2 linked regions of the Homo sapiens genome follow. The protein of the gene in region 1 interacts with the protein of each later gene in a biochemical or structural test. Each region holds a gene or a part of one and is shown in the gene's direction. Other genes may lie near its edges.

Evidence for each region. Proteins that work in one complex are often made in the same cells at the same time.
Region 2: of the proteins of PDPK1 (region 1) and PTPRO, one has a biochemical effect on the other in vitro, tested with the Homo sapiens proteins (one large-scale study listed by IntAct).

The regions. Positions count from the first base shown.
Region 1 is NC_000016.10:2,600,355-2,603,688, forward strand, and holds the end of PDPK1 (3-phosphoinositide-dependent protein kinase 1), read left to right. Parts: 3' UTR 1-2,834; downstream 2,835-3,334. UniProt on the Homo sapiens protein: Serine/threonine kinase which acts as a master kinase, phosphorylating and activating a subgroup of the AGC family of protein kinases.
Region 2 is NC_000012.12:15,591,508-15,595,007, forward strand, and holds part of PTPRO (receptor-type tyrosine-protein phosphatase O isoform a precursor), read left to right. Parts: intron 1-3,429; coding exon 3,430-3,500.

The DNA.
Region 1 (3,334 bases):
CGGCACAAAGCGGAGGGAGGCTGTGGTCGCTGCCGGCCTAGGTGTCCCAGGTGCCCCGCCTTTCTCTGGGACACAGTTGGGGGCTGGCTTCTGAGGGATTCCTTTCTCCCCTCTTTGTGTGGCCCCAGCCAGGGCGGTGGGCAGTCCTGGTGTAGAGCACAAGCCTCTCCACCCTAGAGAAATGCCTCTGTACCACGGCTACCATGTGGAACCTTAACTTGCAGAAGGCTTGTTAACAATTGTTTTGAGAGAGATGGCTGGTCATGCCACAGCTGCTGGGGACTCCGCCTACTCCAGCCCTCTTGGGACACACTGTGGGATTTGTGGCCCTTCCCCAGAGGAATTGTGGAGACTGTCCCATGGAACAAACCCTCAGGCACCAGCACAGGGCTCTGGGTGACTCAGTAAAACTAACGTTTGTCTCTGACAAGATCAGCTGTAGGCTCACCGGCCAGAGAAGACCACTGTGAGCATTTTGCCGTATATCCTGCCCTGCCATTTGTTCACTTTTTAAACTAAAATAGGAACATCCGACACACACCGTTTGCATCGTCTTCTCCCTTGATATTTTAAGCATTTTCCCATGTCATGAGTTTCTCAGAAACATGTTTTTAACAATTGTACTATTTAGTCATTGTCCATTTACTATAATTTATCTGACCATTTCCCTACTGTAAAATACTTAAGACGGTTTCTGATTTTTCCACTATTTAAATAATGCTGTGATGAATATCTTTAAAATCTTCTGATTTCTTACTTTTTTCCCCCTTAGATGCCTGGAAGTGGTATTTTGAGGTGAAAGAGTTTGTTCATTTTGAAGATATTTCTGTCTCTCTCTCGACCTGATGTGTAGACGCTCACTTCCAGTAGCAGAACCACCTTAGTTGTGTCTTACAGATTCTGAACAAATCGGTTTCTGATAAGCCATGTGTTCCAAAGAATGTCTGAATAAGACCGCTCTTTATTTAAATGCTAAGAGGATGTCACTACTGCAATCCATCTGTGGCCGATTTTTTCCAAGAGCCAATTTCCTTGTTTTGGTTGCAAGAACCTGGCTCTGCCTGCATGTCAGCTCTCTGCCCTCCCTGCTGCCGTGGCTTTCAAGCGCTTGGCAGAATCTTGTACTTCGTGTCCACAATGGTACTGAATTTGCATCTGCACAGTCAGCAGAGATAACAAGTGTTGAACTGACCTTGCCACATGCTTAGTGAGTGATTTGTAATTAAGTTTATAGACTCAGAAGGTATATTAGGACATTTGGAATCAGTAGCAGAGCAAAGCCTCTTTGAAAAAAACCACGTAGCTGATTGGGTTTTACAAGAGTGCATTTGTCTCCCCCTTCCACCCGTGGGGCCCCACCTTCAGGTCTTAGTGGTTCACAAGAGCCCAGCAGCCAGGCTGGCTTTTTCATTGTAGGGCGTGGTTGTCCCAGCTGGTGTAGATTTCAGGCCGCCCCCCCCAACTCCCTGCCCACAGTGTTGCAGATTGCCTGGCTGGCAGCAAGTCCAGACCACCCAAATTTGGTTGGATTCTTCATTTCTCCACTGTAGTTGGGGTCCATTGATTGTGCAGGGGAACGTGCAGGAGGTTTTTCTAGGCACCGTGTTCAGTGCTGCTTCACTCTACCAGAGATTATGGCCAAATTGCACGGAATTTGGTTTCTTGCCCTCTGAAGCCTGAGGGCCCCCCCTTGCCTGGCTGGTTGACAGACCCGGGGTGGTCACTGCTGAGACTTCAGAGATCGCAGCTGCTGTGAGAATACGGTGAAGGTACTTTGTTCTGGAAGATGTTGTCATACACTTTTCCCCAGTTATTTTCAAACTTGACATGAGCCTATGTTGACTCACTGGGTGGGGGTCCCTTCTTACGCAGCACACGTGGCAAGTGCCTGAATCGGGGCTGGAGGCACTTCAGAGCCTCTGAGGGGCCACCACTTCTGGCCCAAAATTGCAGGGTTGTAGATGAGGCTGCCTGTGGAGAACTGGTGTGAGGAGGAAGCTGTTTCCAACAAAGAGCACTTTCATCTGTTGAGATGGCTGTGGTGAGCAACTGAACGAGCCTACGTGTGTACCTGAATTTTCCCCGTAACTCATTTCTTCCATATGAAGAAACACCAAACTATGTACAGAGAACTTTTTACAAAAGGCAGACCTTTTTTAAGCTGTGTAACCCACATAGCCTAACCACCTGGCAGAATGACTACGAATAGGGGTCATTGTGCTGGTAAAAGCCTCTATTACGACTGTAAGTAAGTTGGATGTTGGCAAAATTAAATTGTTACAGTATTTAGAGCTGCTGTAGCTGTTCCTTCACAACATAAAATAGGATAAATGACTAGTACGTCTTTCAGGTGGGTGGCAAGCAGAACATGCGTAATATTCTCTACCTGGTCTGTAGCTGTAACTGTGATGTACAGACAAAGCAAAAATTAAAAGAACTTATGAAAACAAATGCAATGATACTAGGATATACACTTTTGTATTTTTATTCTTATATAAGGTTATTTGCTGGCTATTGTTGGCCTCTAGTTCAGTCTGTGTTATTTAAATTCTAATATATGAATTATTTGAATTGAATTCATGTTCGGGGCCACGTTGTTGTATGTATTGATGTACAGCCTTGAATGTGAATAATTATTGTAAACTATATTTTACAACTTTTTTTCTGGCTTTATTATATAAATTTTCTATTGGGTCAGTGATTTAATCATATAATTTAATGAATCTGTTTATCCTTTTTTTTTTTCCAAATACTTGTGCTTTAGGTGTAGTTACCAGATGATGAATTTTCCTCGTATGGTCAGTAGTCTTGTAATAAAAAGCATGTAGAGTGTAGAGGTTTGCTGGCGTGGCTCTTCCTTTGACCCCGCCACGGAGTGGGGGCGCGGTTGGGGGCGGGTGTCTGCCATTGCCCGCTAGCGTTGGCGCCCCAAGCTCGGTTTCACTCCCTCCGGAAGTGGGACCAGCCGGCTGCTTTTCCCGGATGGAACTTCCGCCTGCCATGTGACCGGCGGGTGTTCTACAAGGGCTGACCAGTGGGCGGGACAGAACGCAAAGGGCGATATTAAAAGCCGGACTCTTCCGGTGAAGCGGAGGTGTGGTGGGGCTTGCTGGGATCATGGCGGGGAATCACTGCGAGCTCCTGCCGCTGGCCCGTGGCAGGCTCGGGGCGGGGTTGGGGTGGCTTCTTGTGCCTCCCTTAAAGCGCGGGGCTCAGCGTCCTGGCCCAGCGCCCCAGCAGCAGGTCCAAGTGGGTCCGGCTCTACAGCGGCGGCACCTACTTCCTCACCACTGGGCAGACGCCGCTGTGTCAGGACCCGAAATCCTTCCTGTAC
Region 2 (3,500 bases), on another chromosome or scaffold:
GTTATCAAGCAGCCACCATGTCGCTTTCTGCAAAGCCAAGAAAACGTTTTGTTTTCTCCCTAAATGTTTTACCCTAAATTTTGGTTGTTTTATTTGTTTATGCCAGCATTTTATGTTGATATCTCCGCGGACACAGCCTTTTTAAAGTACAGTATCCCCATCCTGGCCAACATAGTGAAACCCCTTCTCTACTAAAAATACAAAAATTAGCTGGGCGTGGTGGCACACGCCTGTAGTCCCAGCTACTCGGGAGGCTGAGGCAGGAGAATCGCTGGAACCTGGGAGGCAGAGCTTGCAGTGAGCCAAGATCGTGCCACTGCACCCCAGTCTGGTGACAGAGCAAGACTCCGTCTCAAAAAAAAAACCCCATAAAATAATTAATTAAAATTAATTATGAAATAATTAAATAAAAAATAAAGTGCAGTATCCCTTCCCTGAACTCTCATGGGGAGTTCAAAGTCAGCAAAGGGGGCAGAGGTTCCCCGGGTTACTTACTTTTTCCAACTTTTCTAGCTTGACCCTTGATTCCCGCAGGACTTCCTGGTGGATGTTTTCCAGTTCCAGTTATTTATCTGTGTCTTTTTTTTTAACTTATGTCTAGAACATCTTCTTCATTTACCTTTATTTTTTCCTTGTTCCTCTGCTTACCATGGTTCATCCCGTATTTTGAATACAGATTGATCTGCCTAAGATTCTCCTTAAGCCCATTCACATTCAAATTCTGCTGCCAGGTCACAAAAGTTAACAAGGAAAGAACAAAGTAAAAAAAGGTTATTCTTTTCACATGTATCATCCTAGAGTACTCCTTTGACGCTAATGATTTTCAAGAGAATGAAATGGTTCTCCACTTGAGCTCTGTTTTTATGTATATAATCAACCCACATAGACCATATTTCCTCCCATCACTGGTATCTAATTTTCCAGCCTTCTCTACATTGCCTTGACCCCACCATTCCACCTCACCCAAAAAATTGCAGAAGTAGCTGATAGGATGAGCCATGTCTCCAGGTGCAACATGCTGCCTGGACTGCACTGTGACCTGCCCTCTTCCTCTTCCTCACCTGACCAGACACACTTCATAGACTTCTTCACGCAAGTAGAGGCGTATTTAGAAAGAATGCCAGACCCTGAGGGGAGCCTGAATCTCCACTTTACTGCTGCACAAGTCATGTCACCTCTCAAGGCTCCCATTTCTCTTCTGTAAAATATGAATGATAACTTTCACTAATTTTTGTAAAGCAGACATGATGGGAAATAATATAACCTAGATAAGTGATTTGAAACTGTGAAGTGCTACTTATGAATGATGTTCTCCTCTCTTCTATTTTTATCGAATATTTTGTTTGGTTTTCCTCTAATATCCTTCCCTGGAGGTCAGTTGGGGCTTTGCTTTGAGCAGCCCATCCTCTTGATCTGCAGTTTGAATTTCGGGACTTTCAAGGACAAGTCCCTCCATAAATAGTCTTTATTTACTTTTCTTGTGGTCTTGTTGTTTGGTTGTTTTTTGTTTTGATACAAAATGTAGCCACTAAGCAGATGCAGATTGAATGTCCAGGCAATCTCTGGTCTTATCTATTCCCTGTGTTGACATAACACCAGAAGCAATGGATTAGGTGTCCATGTGTGATGACCACAAGGGGTAGCTCAGCCACTGATAGGATACCATCACCACAAAAGGGAATATATTTTCTCCAAACCGTGTTGAAAAATACAGGTTAGGCTGAGGCATCAATCCAGTGATGTTCGAAATATTAATTTTGTTTTTTGTATGAAGTTGTTACACAGGAAGCTTCTTAAAATCCTATGAATATTTTGACCGGATCTCATTTAAATGTTATTTCTAGTGCTATTACTTATAGAGAAACTCTGGGAAACAAAGAAAAAGGAGGAACACTGTGAAATTACCCTTACTTCTTGGCAGAAAGATATATTTTGGTGATTTCATTTTGGCTTTCATTCAAGTATAACTTTTACATGATTGTGCTCATATTATATGTATGTATATATGTGTGTTACTTTACATTCTATTTACATTGTAGTTTCTCATTTAGGATTTTACTATGTAGCCTGTATAGTATCAAAAATTACCTACAACTCTATAAATCTCATTTTAAGGACAGACTAATGTTTCATTAAAGATACACTATTGCATACTTAAACCAATCTCCTTTTTATAGAACATTAAATTGGATTATTTTCCACTTTTTACTATTATCTGTGTCCACACCATTTATTAGCACTTTATTAATTCTACCTCCACAAACAATAGGTAAAATGGACTGCCTCAACAAACTTGTCATCATTAAATATTATTCTTTTCCTTCTAGCTTTGTCCACTACATAGATAGAAAATAATTATTTCAATGTACTTTGTATTACTTGACTATTGTTGGCATATTTTAATATTTCCTCAGTTTACTTCAAAAATCATTTAATAAACACAGCTAAGTGCTAAGCATTAGGAATAAAAAGACATAGTTTCTAACTTCCAGGGAATATTTGGCCTAGTGGTTGATGTCCTTTACTTATTTGTCTATTTGTATATGTTACTGATTTGAATGACTTTATCACAAAAATAAAGGCATCAATATTCTGTCATAATTCTAGAAAATATTTTTCTTTTCCAGTTTGTGGTTTACCCTGTGTTTTATTCTTTTTAACTTTTTAAAATATACAGTAGATTGAGATTTTTATTTGTAATGTATTCTACTGCTCTTAATTTTAGAAATTCCTTTCCTAAAGGAATCAGAGAGAAATTAACCAATATTTTCCTCTGTATTTTTAAAGACAATTTATTAAATTACCTGGAATTTGCTTTGGTGTATGATAATGGGATATCCTTTTTTTTTCAAAATAGCCCCATGATTTGATTGAATATTCATTTCCTTTAGCATTAATAATGATTTAATGTACAGCATGGTGAACATAGTTCATAATACCGTATTGTATACTTGAAATTTGCTAGGAAAGTAGATCTTAAGTGTTCTCACCACACACACACACACACAAATATATATACATACATATATATGTATATATACACACACATATATATAAACATATATATAATCTGGGGTGATGAATGTGTTAACTAGCTTGATTGTGGTAATCATTTCATAACATATATGTATATCAAGTCATCACATTGTACACCTTAAATATATACAATTTTTATTATACTGCAATAAAGTTAGGGGAAAAAAATTCCACTGTTTTTTTAAAAAAGCCATGATGTTCTAAGCTCTGTTATTAATCAAAATACTTGTACAGTTGATTCTCTTGGATTTTCTAGTTATAAAACTGTGTCTCTGTAAATAATGAAAATGGTTTCCTTTAACACCAGATCTTGATCATTAAAATTGTCATAGTATAAAATATTATATCTTTGCACATGTCTGCTCTGAAACCTGTTTTTGTCTTTTGTTCCAGGAGCAGTACATTTTTATCCATCAGTGTGTGCAACTGATGTGGATGAAGAAGAAGCAGCAGTTCTGCATCAG